Homo sapiens: one gene and its partner. The protein of the gene in region 2 purifies or fractionates together with the protein of the main gene of each other region. This does not show direct contact. Each region holds a gene or a part of one and is shown on either strand. Other genes may lie near its edges.

The links. Proteins that work in one complex are often made in the same cells at the same time.
Region 1: the proteins of SV2A (region 2) and FAM91A1 purify together in Homo sapiens (affinity purification with mass spectrometry; 2 studies listed by BioGRID and IntAct, with this or other methods). This does not show direct contact.

Annotation. Positions count from the first base shown.
Region 1 is NC_000008.11:123,764,486-123,771,676, reverse strand, and holds the start of FAM91A1 (protein FAM91A1), read right to left. Parts: upstream 3,239-7,191; 5' UTR 2,975-3,238; coding exon 2,903-2,974; intron 1-2,902. UniProt on the Homo sapiens protein: As component of the WDR11 complex acts together with TBC1D23 to facilitate the golgin-mediated capture of vesicles generated using AP-1.
Region 2 is NC_000001.11:149,907,805-149,915,042, forward strand, and holds part of SV2A (synaptic vesicle glycoprotein 2A), read right to left. Parts: intron 6,384-7,238; 5' UTR 6,037-6,383; coding exon 5,415-6,036; intron 4,177-5,414; coding exon 3,996-4,176; intron 3,174-3,995; coding exon 3,022-3,173; intron 2,900-3,021; coding exon 2,766-2,899; intron 2,087-2,765; coding exon 1,997-2,086; intron 1,768-1,996; coding exon 1,657-1,767; intron 1,477-1,656; coding exon 1,388-1,476; intron 403-1,387; coding exon 238-402; intron 30-237; coding exon 1-29. UniProt on the Homo sapiens protein: Plays a role in the control of regulated secretion in neural and endocrine cells, enhancing selectively low-frequency neurotransmission.

The DNA of each region.
Region 1 (7,191 bases), on a different chromosome or scaffold from region 2:
CCTCAAAATAAAAGGGCTATTAATTATTTTGGATAAAGAATACAAGATAGTGGTAAACTACAGAAAAATCCTGAAATAATGGCCCCATCCACAATTTTTTATATATTTTTTAAAAGTCTATCATGACCCATACCACATTTTTTTAAATGTCCTCTCATCCACATAAAAATGAATTAGCTTAAAATACATTTTTTAAAAATCTAAATCACCTGCCCCTAGCTTACAGAACTGGAAAATGAGTCATTTTCAAGGTAAACCCATCAAAACTTACTGGAAACGACATCGAAGTGTCTAAAAATCTATAATGCCAAAAGACAAATTCTTTCCATAGAAGGAATATTCCCCAAGTTTAAACTGACTGAGCTTTAGGTGCTCAGCCACAAATACTAAAAGCCAAGTATGTGAGAGGTGCTCATGGGACAAAAGCAAAGCCAGTATTGTAACCACAAAATGCACCATAGCGGGGTAAGCTCTATGACAGGTGAGGAATACAATGCAATGGTAAGATAGCCTAGGGGCAACCACCACAGATTTAGGTGGTCAGGGAAACCTCCCAGGAGCAGTATCAGAGTGAGAATCAAAATATGCTATTAATACAAGCAATATAAAGGAGACCAGCAGTAATAAGGTTGGGTTTGCATTTCAGAAGCCTCACCCCCAGAGTAGCATGAAGAATGCAGAGAAAGTCCTATTCTAAGAGCAAGAGACCAGAGAGAAGGCTGATGTAGTAATCTCAGATGGAGCTCGGCCTAGGGAAGCAGTGATTAGGCTAGAGAAGGTCCTTGGAAGTAAACTTGTACAGATGTTTTGCAACATCTACAAATGGCCAACCTTATCCTAAGCTAAAATAGCCACTGTTTTTCAAGTGATTTTAAAAACAAAAACATACTTAATTTCACATTTAGACCTAATTTTAACTGTCCCATGATTATTTTTAAATAGTCATGACTACGTTTTAGAAACTCTTTTGCCAATACTAATTAAAGTCAAATATTCATGTTGGATATAATCTCATCACTCATCTTTCTTCCAGTATGCTACATTTATTCTGATGAAAAGAGTAGAGAAAAAATGGAAACAAAGAAAAGAAGAACTGTTTGTTCTTCTTGTGTCTTTGGATTTGCCACAAAACCCTAAAGTACAAAAGTGTCCTTTAAAGCCTTTATTCAAGATTAACAAAAGAAATTTATTCCTTCAGGTTTAGAGCTTTGTTCTCCCAGTTTAAGATAAATGCCACACGGGCAGCCACTGACACCCAAGAATTCAAGTTCTTTAAATTTATCTTTCTCGGTTTTTGCTATATTAAAGTGAAAGCATTTTCTTGGCCACATGATGCATGACCAGAACCTTAATATTCACTTCCTGGCACTAAATCCCCAAGGGAGGAAGGGAGCAAAGTAAACTAAACTATAACAATCCTCATACTGGCTGGGCACTGTGGCTCACGCCTGTAATCCCAGCACTTTGGAAGGCCGAGACGGGCGGATCATGAGGTCAAGATATCGAGACCAGCCTGGCCAACATGATGAAACCCCGTCTCTACTAAAAATACAAAAATTAGCTGGGCGTGGTGGCGCGCACCTGTAGTACCAGCTACTCGGGAGGCTGAGGCAGGAGAATCGCTTGAACCCAAGAAGCAGAGTTTGCAGTGAGCGGAGATCACACCACTGCACTCCAGCCTGGGCAACAGGAGACTCTGTCTCAAAGAAATGAAAATAAAAATAAAAATAAATAAATAATCCTTATATACCATCACCGCCACCATTCCAAACTTCCCAAAAATGCCACTGCCGAGTGCCAACAGAAAACTGAATTTCACTCTCGACCAAGTATAATGGGAGGAAGCGAAGGTCAATCTATGACCAGAGCAGCAGTGCGTTATCTGTAGCCCATATCACTACTTTCGTAAGACTTAAAACCATCTGCTATGTTACGTATTTATTCATTTATTTGTTTACGTCTTTCTTTAGTAAAATGTAAGCTCCATGAAGGCAGTCTTTGTCTTGTTGACTGTTGCAAATTACCTGCACCTAGAGCAACGCACAGCACCTAGTAGGTGGTCAATAAATATCTATTAAACAATTGAGTAAAACAGACTAAAAAAATCGAGAATTAACTTTCAAAAACCTCATGTCACTCTTGTTGAAACATCTCTGATAAACCCATCTTGTCTGGAGGATAAAGTCCAACAAAACAAAGCACACAAGCACCTTCAAAATCTGGCCCTGACCACTTTTCCAGGCTCATCTGCTACCAGCCCCGCGCACTCAAAAAACTTCAACTCCAAACATGTCAGTCCAAACTCTGGTGATACAGTCACTTGCTACTCATGAGACATGTTCTTTCACTCATCCAAGCTTTGTAAAATGACTTTCCCTCCCCCTGGAAAAATCTTTATTCCCTCTTATTTAACTCTTATTCGTCCTCCAAGGCCCAATTTAAGTGCCTGCCTTAAAAATCCTTCCAACTCTCCCAGGATAATTTCTCCCTCCCTCTGCTCTCACATATACTACAATGCAGGTGTGTATGAGCTGCTATCATCCTGTATCGTATTCATTTGTTTCCCATCCCTTTCCCACCATCCTGAAATTCCGGAGGTCAAGGACCGTGTTTAAAATCTCTATCGCAGGTGCCTGGCTGAATGTATCCTGCGGGCAAAGGCGCCAGTCGAGTCCTGTGGACACCATGCCATCCCATTTAGCGATCGCCCCGTCCTGGCCCTGTGGCCCCACAGCCGTCCCCTCCTCGCCCTGGGCTGAAGGTCCGTCTCCCCAAGACCACGGAGGAGTAAAGGAAGGGAGTCAGCCGGCAGCAGCCCGCTCGGGCCCCGCGAGCGAGGCAAGCAGGTGACCGCTGGGCGGGCCGAATCCGTCAGGGGCCCGGTCCCAGGTTCCGGCCGTACCTGTCTCACGTTGGCCGGCAACTTGTTCCAGGGGTAGTTGTGCCGGATGTGGAACTCCACGTCTATGTTCATGATGCCGCGGCCAGGGCCGGCGGCCGGGGCCGCCACCGCGACCCACACTACGCCTCCCGCCTGCCCGCCCGCAGCCTGTCAGCGGAGCGACGCGGGAGGCCCCGCGCCTCACACTGCAGAAGGCCCAGGCTGCCCCATGGCCTAGGCTCCCGACAGTTCAGCGCCGCCCGGGCCAACCGAGTACAAGAGCAGCAGCGATTGGAGGCTGGATCGCCTGAACAGCTCCAAGTTTCTTCCTAGTTTCGGGCCGCCGGAAATGGCTCTGGGCACACGTCACTTCCGCCCGCTGGCGCGCGGCCGGAGGGGCGGGGCACGGACTGGCCTCTAGCCACGCCCTCTACAGGCTGCGGGGCGGGGCGACGACGAGGTACCGGGAGGTGCCCGGGTGAGCGTTCCCCGCCCGCGCGCTTCGTCTCCCCGTTTCAGTCTCTGAATGAACGGCGATAGTCGCTTGGGTCTGCGTTGCCGTTGCTGATGACCCAGTTTACTCAAATTGTAAAGCCGGAGGCACTGGGGTCGGTTTTCAGAGAAAAGCGACCTGGGAAGCGGGCCGGCAGTGGCTGGCTTTACATTGGAGTGCGGTGCGCTCGCGGGGGTTCTCCACAGGCCAGCCCGGAACCCGGGCCAGTGAGACGGGGCGGGGGGTTGCGGGGACGGGTCCAGGGCCCTGGAGAAAGAAATAATCTCTAAGTCAGGTCTCGCACCGGGTTGAGCGAGAAGCATGGGCAGTGGGAGAGCAAAGGTCTGGTAAGCCCTCTTCCCTTCCGCGGTGTGCTGCACGTCATTGGGCTCCACTTCCCAAGAAGATCCAAATTCTTACAATGCAGGGATTCAGGGAGCTGAAATTTTAAACAGTGGTGCTGACAGGTCGAGGCAGCCTACAGGGCTGACAGAGAGATACCCTTGCCAACTTTGTCATGCAGCCTGTCGGTTTCTGCTTTATTCTGCTCCACACAAATGCCTCCAGAGTCACTTAAAAGCAAAAATCCAGCATGTCTTAATTTCAGATTGAGTGATAAGGTCTTTGGGAATAATTTCTTTCAGAAGTTGTTACGCTGCCTTAGCAAACCCGTGACCATTATTCCTGGCAGCAACCAGAGACAAGTTCAGTGTTATTGCAACTGTTTTTCAGTTTTTAACAATGGTTTTAAATAATGTTTTATTATATACTGGGAGATGTATACTTAGAACTTTTTATAAGATACCTAGCTCACACCTCAACAGCTGGCAAGTCTGATGCTTAGCAGAAACCCCATTATGTCTGATGAAATAAAGGTGACAAGTACACACTGCCCTTGCTTAGATGTTTTGGTCTCCTATTATCCAACTATAATAACCCAAAGATAAGTGCTTTGAACCTTATGTTTACAGATCCTCATCAGCATAGCTAAGGTTAACTGAACTCTAACCGTGAGACATTTATTCAACAAATATTGATTACCTGCCCGCCATGTATTAAGGCCTTGACTTGACAATAGATTATTCCTCACAACCCTGATATTCCTACAACAGTAACCACTTACTATCCCAGTTTGATAGAGGAGGAGACTGAGGCTTGGCAGGGCTTCATGACTTGCTCGCAAGATCACACAGGTAGCACTGACAGAGCCAAACTGGAGCCGAAGGCTATCCTCACTCCAGAGCCATCCTTTCAGTTCCCCAACTCAGGCTCTCACTCACTGAACTCTTCTACCTCCTGTTCCAATTTAGACAATGTTCATTCAAAGTCAACGACATAAACATCCTCTAAAATAATGCTTTACAGTTCTAAGTGTGGAAGAACCCATATTCTTCCAAAGTCTAACTTAGATCTAATGCAATATAAGTAACAATGAAAATTAAAGTCAATTTAGCTTAAAAAAATCCCTGTAAACTATTATTTTAGCTAATGATAGCAGTTCAGCAGGTGAATGCCTGATAAACTCACTATATTGAGTTTAGTGGACACATCAAAAACTATAAAAGTGAACGTGGGATAAGTAGAGGTGAACCTACACCCATTAAATTAATAAGGCAAACAGACCTTTGAAAATGCGACCCTGTGACTAGAAAAGATTCTCACTCGGCAAGTAGCTGAGAAAAGCAGACACATGAAGGAGGAAATGGGAATGAGATAGAGCTATGTGGATGGGAAGAATTCAAATAACAAGCCCTTACGAGCAGGAACCAGTGATGGACTCTGGCTTAATACACAATCTTATTAAAGTACTGATCTGCCTCATTTCCCACCAAGGACCAGTCTTTGAGAGGATAGGAGTTCAAAGACGGTAAATTAACCCACAGGGCTCTATGACCCCCTCTGCTGGGAAGTTCAGGAACAGTACTGCTTCCCCAAGCATCAGAAAGCTGGAAACAGTCGCTCACTAGACTGACTCCACATGTGACACTCATTACAGCACCTCACCTTTTCGTTTAGCAATAATGTCCTTCCTTTACGTCCCTGACTGAGGCTCCTGCTAATTTTTACTTTACTAGACCTTTGGCTTTTCAAATTCCACAGAGGTCAGAAACTGCAGAGTGTTTAAGTCCCATCCCAGAAGCTGCCATTCGAATTAACACTGTGGGTTAAAAAAAAAAAAAAAAAAAGTGTTCAAAAGCACAAACAAGTGCAATGAAATTCAGTCTTATCTGGCTTTACAAGATCAGATTGAGGAAAACTGCCCAACTAGCTTAGGCAATTGGCCCTTTAGAAAGACTACAGAACTATTTCATTCCCAAAATTCCAACAGAAATAATGAGCAGAAACTACCTGAAAATAGGGAGCCATCTAATGACCCCACTCATAGACTCCAGAATGTCATGCCCTGTGGTAGGAATAATAATAGTCCCCAAAGATGTTCACATCCTAATGCCTAGAACTTGTGAATTTGCCCCTTATATGGTAAAAGGGACTTTGCAGATGCAGTTAAGCATCGTGACATGAGGAGATAATCTTGAATTATCCAAGTGGGTTCAAGATAATCACGAGGTCCTTATTAGAGGGAGGCAGGGGGTCAGAGTTAGAGAAGGTGATGTGACAACAGAAGCAGAGATCAGAGTGATACAGGGCCACAGGCCAAGGAATGTGAACAGCTTCTAGGAACTGGAAGAAATGGATTCTCCAAAAGGAGCACAGCCCTGCTGAGCCATTTTGAGCTTCTGATCTCCTGAAATGTAAGATAATAAATGTGTGTGATTTCAAGGCACCAAATTTATAGTAATTTGTTACATCAGCAATAGGAAATTAATATACTCCCCAACAATAAAATATTCCAACACCCAAATAGCTGATGCATCAAATGTTATAATTAAAGTCATTGTGATTAAATGCCCTTAGGAGGAATAATTCCCTTTAAGCCTTATTATTTTTTAAGTATACATGAGCTGTCACATCCTTTTCTGAGAGCAAGTTTGAAAGAGATAGAGCTTAGGGATGAAATGAGGCTAGAGAAGCACCTGTAGGGGAGGAAATGGTGTCCAGAAAAAAGAGAGGAAAGGGAGTCACTGTAACATTTTTCTGTTTCACAATTTTGCCTGAGTCCGACCTTAGTCGTGGGTTTCCATACCGTATATGATTTGCTCTGTTCCATGAACCATTTTATCTCCATGCCAGACACCTTAGCCTTGCTTGTTCCCACCTCCCAGTTTTTACCCTTCTAATCCCCTCCACCTTGAATGCCTTTCCCCAGACCTTTGCACAGCAGGTTCCTTTGAGTCCACCTGCTGTCACTTAGAGTGGCCTTCTCCAACTACCTTGTCCAACCTAGCCACTTCTCCCCTCAACCTCCCTCTAACCTCATTACCTCTCTCATTACCTTGTTCATGTCCTTCATTGTAAGGAATTACTGTCCAACATTATCCTGTTTGGCTCCTTGCTTGTTGTCTGTCTCTGCATGGAAGGAAGGACTTTGCTTTCTTGTTCATCAGTTTATCTCTAGGACCTAGAATCATGCATCATATATAATAAGTGCTCAATAAATACCATTGATTGTATTGAATGCATGAACTAGTTATGTGATACCTGAGCTCTCAAGTGCTACTTCTCAGTTAAGCCTTCCCTGACCACCTTATTCAAAATCGTAACATATCTCCAACCCTCTGCATCCTCCTCCCCTGCATTATTTTTCTCCATAAAGTGGAGATGGCACTTATTACCATCTAATATAGTCAGTAAATGACTTAATCTTTAAAATTGTCTCTCCCATCAGACAGGAAGCTCCCAAATGATAGGGGCTTTT
Region 2 (7,238 bases):
ACACTGACTTGAGCCGCAGCCCAATGAACCTGTAAGGCCAGGATGGTGAAAGACACTCCCCCGTCATCCTCATGCCCCCTCCAAGACTCACTCTTTAGCGAAGTAATGGGAAGCTGGGCATTGAGAAGAAACCACAAGTGTTTGCCCCCCAAATGTCTTGTCTTGAACCCCTAGACTCATAAAAGAGACGAGGTAGAAGGAACAGGGAAGAAGTGAAGTTTAAAAGTCCCCACATACTTGTCATTGAAGTACTGCCCGCCTCGGTGGATCTGATTCTCCAACGTGAAGTTAAAAGTTACATGCTCTACGCGCTCCCCGGGGAACACTTTGGTGCGGGATGCGTAGTCCACTGCCTGGAGATGGCGGATCATGTCAGGAAACCAGACGGTCAGGCCATAGTAGCTGAAGAGTCAAGGACAATGGAAACAGACAACAGGGCTTCAGACAAGGCTCAGAGATTAGAATCAGGCAGAGGAGAAAACGGAAATGTGTATCATCTCAGAACAAGGGAGAAATGGAGTCAACCTCTGTTAGGACCTTGCTCCTCTCCAGCCTCACCAGCTTCTCCCTGCTCCTCCCTTCAACAGTTGCTGCGCTCCTGGGGGACTTCAGGGTCTCGCACAGCAGCCACTATACTTTTTCTTACCTCCCAAGCATTTGCTTTTCCCTCTGCCAAAAACACTCTTCTCCACCCCAGCCACCCCCACTCCACCTGTCTGACTCCCATTCACCTTTGAGGACTTAGGTCCCCACCCCAGCCCAAGCCCCAAGTGCTCCCACTGCCCTTCCCCCACCCTTCTCTCATCACCCTGCTTCATAGCAAGTTTCGTCTCACTTCTTTTTTTTCTTTTGAGACGGAGTCTCGCTCTGTCACCCAGGCTGGAGTGCAGTGGCGCGATCTCGACTCACTGCAACCTCTGCCTCCCGGATTCACACCATTCTCCTGCCTCAGCCTCCAGAGTAGCTGGGACTACAGGCGCCCACCACCATGCCCGGCTAATTTTTTGTATGTTAGTAGAGACGGGGTTTCACCGTAGCCAGGATGGTCTCGATCTCCTAACCTCATGATCCGCCCGCCTCGTCCTCCCAAAGTGCTGGGATTACGAGCCTCATCGTCCTGCTTCTTAACCAAAACATAAACTCCAGGAGGACCTTGGACCACATCTGTTTCATCCCAGCACAGAATAGAAACTGAATCCTGGTCAGCCTACAGTACAAGTTTGTTGAGTGAACTAGCGAAGTAGAGGAGCTGGCTGCAGGATCAGAGGGGGTCTGCATGGCACCTTCCCTCATCGCTTGTCCCCTGCATCTCCATTCTCCCCACCTCTCTCCCAGCCCACACACCACCACAACCACCACACATCACCCAGCCCACCCATCTCCTCACCTGAATGACATGGTGAACCACACACCCATCATCATCAGAGTGATGCGCCGATATTCGGGACCAAAACAGGAGAGAAAATTCCCCCAAACCTACAGGGGACCAGACAAAGTCAGACCTTGACTATACTAAGTTCTAGCACCCATAGATCCCCACTTTTCTGCCCTCCCACCTCCCTTCAGCTCACCCATCACCCACACACATAGACTTCAGTCCTGCCTTCTTCTCCACTTCCCCCACTCCCTTCTATCTACCACCCCGTCCACCATTACCTGCCCCCCTAGGCTCAAGGCCCGGACCCCCCAGCGCTGGTACCAGGTCCCTGTGTCCGACTGGATCTCAATCAATTCATCCTCCTGATGAATCGTCTTAATGTGGGTTACCTGGGGTCAAGAGAAGGGGTGGGCAGTCACACACTCTGTGTTTCCCAACATCGGCCAGGCGCCTCAGTTTCCCCTGCATTAGCAAAATGGGAGGCAGGAGGTGGATATGATACCCTGAAAATCTCCTTACGGTAGAGTGTGGTCTGAGGTGGGGGGTACTCAGAGAGGGGCCAGGTAGGGGCTGGGGCTGCAGGGCGTGGAGGTCTGAGTCGGGAGGGCTGTGGCTTACTGAGAACACTCGCTCAGGATGTCCTTTGGCTCGCATGTTGGTATCATGGACCTGCTTCAGCACCATCCAGGCCTCATCATGCTTTCCATTCTAGAGCCAAAGACACAATCCCCACATCCAAGTCAGCCCCTACCTGACCCAGAGTTATAGACCCCCTCCCTCCCACCTGGCTTCTGTAGTCACAGGACACTAAATGGTTCCCAGCCCTCAACCCCACCACCAAGCCCTGACCTATGGGCATGCACTCACCACTCTGAAAGAGCCCCAAGCTGAGGTATAGCAAGACAATCAGACTTGGGCAAGAGCTGCGGGTTGGGGGTGGGGAGTGTTGTCCAGGGGAAAAAGGCAAGCACAGGTCTTGGGAATTCCATAGTACAGAGGAATGTAAAAACCAAAGGTAAGGGAAATGATGGGCAAGCATGTAGTCAAAGACCTAATCCTGCTGGGGTTAGGAGGGGAAGGTATAGGGGGTGGGAATGTCTCTTGAGCTGTAAATGCAGGACAGGGCCAAGGCCCTTCCCTGCAAAATCTTAAGTCATCCATGGGTAAAGAGGTCCCCTGGTTTCTCCACCCAAGAACCCCTCAGGGACACATTCCAAGGCAAAGAATGCAAGATAAAGTCCCCTGGAGAGTGGACTCTGTGAGGAAGGCAGGCAGTCAAACAGGATCAAATCAAACTCCAGTTGGTGTTTGAACACAGAAGCCCCTGCTGCCGTCCACACTCCACAGCCCGCACCCCACCCCACCCCATGCAGCTCAGCCCCATCACCTCTAGGAAGAAACGGGGGCTCTCAGGCTGCGTGGTCAGAGCCCCAATGGCAAACACAGAAGGAAAGGCGCAGACGAGGACGAAGACCCTCCAGCTGTGGAACTGGTAGGCAGAACCCATCTGAAAACTCCACCCTGGTAGGGAGAAAGTGACAGCATCAGCAGAGAGGCCAGAGGCTGGGGGAACCCACCACAGGGAGCACAGAAGAAGAGGGAGGAGGGAGATAACCTGGGGTGGATTTCCGGGGGCTGCTCACCATAGTGGGGGATGATGGCCCAGGCCATAGCAGCTGCGTACACGCCACCAATCATCCAAAACATGCAGAGCCAGCTCAAATGCTCCCCTCGTTTCTCCTGGGCCAGAAACTCGGAGAAATAGGAGAAGACAATGGGGATGGACCCTCCAATCCTGAAGTGCATTTCAAGAATTCAGCATTAGCAAATGGCCATAGTCCTGATCCCCTGCCCCACTGCTCTGGACCCCGAGCCCCTTTTGTCTTCCAGGCTTTTGAAGAGACTCCATCTCACACATAAAGCCTTACAAGCTCCCATGTGGGCCAGCCATCAAGCACCCATCCTTGGGACCATGGGAAACAGGCAAGCGAGTCTCAGGGAAAGGGAAAGAGCAAATCTTAAATCTTGAAAATGAATTACAGAGTTGGAAGGGCGGGAAAGTAATTGCAGAAAAGAGAATAAATCTCCAGAGAAAAAAGACAAGCCAAAAGCCTCCAAGGGCAGATGTTGTGGGAATGGCCAGAAAGGAGCTTGGAGTTGAAGCAGAGTAAGCGGGCCTGCCATGCTTGCAAAAGTGAAGGGGCAGTGCGGACAAGGCGTCAGGGTTCTGGCAGGTGTGGGTGTTAGCAAGGTTTGTTGTGTAATGCAGGAAATGTGTAGACTCTGGTAGGGGGTAACTCTGGGTCCACAGGAGCCCAGGGGTGGGGCTGAGGCCCACTAGGCCTCTTTGTGGAGGCAGGCTCAAAAATGGAACTAGAGGTGGGGTGGAGGACTCAGGAGTGGGCCAAGGAACAGCATTCTGGACAGCAGCAGACAGGTCCTGGGCAGGGAGGAGCTGGCCTGAAGATGGCTGGGGGAGAAAGGAACTCATTCATCCGTTCAACTCACACAGATTTAAGGTGCATTTGGTGTGCCTGGCACTGTGCTGGGCCCTAAAGATACAACAGTGACCAAGGCACAGTCCTGCCCTCAAGGGACTTAGGAAGTGTACACTCACCCAACCCCAGAAAGTAGGCGGCAGAAGAGGAAAGTGCCGTAACCCTGGACAAAAGATGAGAAGAAGGCGAAGACGCTGTTGACTGAGAGCGAGATGAGCAGACACTGCCTCCGACCCAGCCGGTCAGCCAGACCTCCCCAGAGGAAGGCTCCCACCATCATGCCCAGGTAGACGATGAGGCCTGGAAGGAGGAGGAAAACAGGCAGAGGGGGTGTGAGCAGACACACCTTAATTCTCCCAGGAGATGAGCACTGAGGGAGCTGAAGGATCTGAAAAACTTCTAGAAGGTAAGTCTACCCAGAGATTAGAGCAAGTGAGAGAAAATGAATGGTGTAAGCAAAGATAGAAGATCATCTCTGCAGGCCAGGGGTTCAAAGGCAGGAATGAAGATATGGGAGAACCTGCAAACTCTCCACTCTCTTCGGTCTGTCTCATTTCTCACTCTGACACACACACAGTGACACCTTTACCCCTGGCTCACTTTGAAGGAGGAATGGGTGTGCCTAGGATCACAGACCACCCCAGGGTCCTCTCTATTCTCCCTGCTTTGATCCCTCAAAGCAGCAGGAGAGCTCTCATTTGTTCCTGGGGAAAGGGGCTCCAATTCATTTCATCTTCCCAGGAAATCTCCCACACAAAATCCATCCTTTACTCCTTCCAGTCTCAATATTTCTGGTCCAAAAACTCTCCTGTTTTTCACTGCCTTCATAAAACCAAAGCTGGAATTAATCTTTAAAATCATCTACTCCAAACTTTGCATTTTCCCATGCCCAAACCAAGCCCCAGGAAGAAGAGACCTGTCCAAGACCCCATGGCAATTTGGTGGCAGAGTAAGGCCTCGATTCTTTCTCTGTGAGTCTACGGGGTTCCTCCTCAGAGTCCCTGTCAGGAAAGGCCATCAAAGACTACATCCTGTCCCCTGGAAACTCCCATCTGAGTGAGAGAAAGTCTAACCAGCTTCTCTGGCAGAAGATCCAGGACCCTCCCCCCCTCCCCCAACCACCCCAAACTGACTCTCCCCATTTATACCAAGGAGTTTGGATACTGGCTTCTTGTTCCCCAATCAGTGAAAGGGAACAGGATAACCAGAGGGAAAGCTATGAAGAAACATTAAATGGTAGGGACCATCCTACCACAGCCACCTCCTGCAGAATGAAGCAGACCACCACCCAACCACTGGCCCAAGCCCCAGTCCAGCTGCCCTCCCGCAAGCCCCTCTGTCACATTCAACTTCACCCTGACCCAAGGCCAAGAAGAGGGAGTGTGTGAGGGAAGAGTGTGCAGAGGAACCCTGAGCCCTCTGGGAACATCTTGGGTGCAGGGTCCTAGGGAACCCAGTGGTAAGGACAAGAGCAATTTCCAGGAGCAAGGAGGTTTCCAGAGTTTGAGGGGATAAGGCTGGAGCCCCCCATGTCTTACCTAGCATGCCTTTGTTGGAGTCGGACAGGCACATGTCTTTCTCAGCGCTGGGCAGCACGAAGCCCACCACAAAGACCTCCACACCGTCAGCCATCAGCGCCAGACCAAGCACAAAATACAGTGTCCACTGGAAGCGGCCGTGGCCACACTCCCGTAGGATGGCTTCATACTGTTGGGCCAGTTCTTCTCGTTCTTTCCGTCGTTGTGCCTCCCCCCGGCCCCCAGGGGGACCCTCCCCATCACTCAAGCCCCCCCTTACTCCAGCCAGGGGCGCCCCATCTGCCATCCGCTCGCCTTTGCCCCCAGACTCTGCCCGGGGAATGCCCTGATATTCCCCTTCATAGATCTCATCATCCTCGTCATGGCCCTCAGTAGCATCACTGGATGCACCACCTTCCTCCTCATCCTGGGTCCCTTCTCCTCGGTAATAACCATCACTGGGAGCAGGGAAGTCATCATCATCATCCTCCTCCTCAAAGCGGGAGTACGATCTTCGGGAATATTCGTCCTGGACTCTGTCCAGGCCCTTCACCACCTTCTTGGCCGCATGCTTTTTGACTTCCTTAGCAATGTCTTTGGCCCCACGGATGAAAGCTGCCCGGTCTCGGAAGCCCTCTTCCATGATGGGGCTTGGGGCACTTCACTGGGTCTTCTCCACCTCCTGCTTCTTTTTCAGCTTTTTGCTCAAGGACTTGTAGAGTCAAAAAGACCCCTCCCCACAGTTACTTAGATGAAGCGTGTTCCAGTATCTCTGGGCACAAAAAAAAGAGCAAACAGGTCCTAGCCAATGAGTGCCTAGGAAGGAAAAGGAAGGAGAGGAGCTTTGACCTATACCCAGTTCAGTTGGGTGGATGGGGAAGGGACAGGGGGAGCAGGGGAATGGGAAGGGGAAGGGGAGCCAGATTGGGAGGCTAAGCCAGGATAACTCAGGAAGGGTCGCCTGCTTCTCTTCCACAAGCCTCTGGAGACCTAGAAAAAATAACAGACAGCAAAAGGAAGTTGTGAGTCCTAAGGTGGTGAAGAAGGCCAGTATAAAGCCTCTCAACCCAGAGCCCCATCTGGACCATGTGGTGCAGAGATGGTCTTCTCGCTTTAGGCTCCCATCCACACACTAAAAAGGGATGGCTATCTGGGCTAACCGGGTCACTCACATAGAAGTCCCCTTACTTTGACCTTGGAGGCCTGGCCTGTGGAATTTGCTCCAAAGTCGCAGTCACCTACCCCCAAACCCACCCCAGCCCTTGCTTTATCACCAATCTGCAAAGAACTAAACAGGAAATATGAGAAACCAGAATTCCCTTCTTTAGTCTTGCCTGGGTTTCTTACTAGGGGTGGAGTTGAGGAGGATGTGTAAGAGGACAAGCCCTCCAACCTGTGGCCTTCCCTCCTCTGATGGCATCTGAAGGCAGGGGCTTCCACTGTCCTTCCCTCAGGTCCCATGTTTACAGGCTTCAACAAGGAGGGATTTTCTCTCAACATAGTCTAATGGGTAAATGCTCAGCTTCCAGAGTCACAAAGACATGGGGTTGACTTCCTGTTTTGGCAAATACTAGCTAAGGGACCAAGCCTCAGTTTCTTCTTGTTTAAAAAGGGGAAAGTAAGGGTCGAATGATATAATGTATCTATGCTCCTTACCATAAGTCACCTGGCACATAAAAATGATGAATAAATATTAATTATTAATTTTGTGGTGACAGTAATATAGTGAAATGCCCTATACTACCTCATAAGGTCCCCAGATGAAAGCTATCTTGGATGCTCTTTAGGGTGAGCAGCAGGAAGGGACACTGGCAAGGAGAATCCTGGTTCAGGGCAAAGCACATG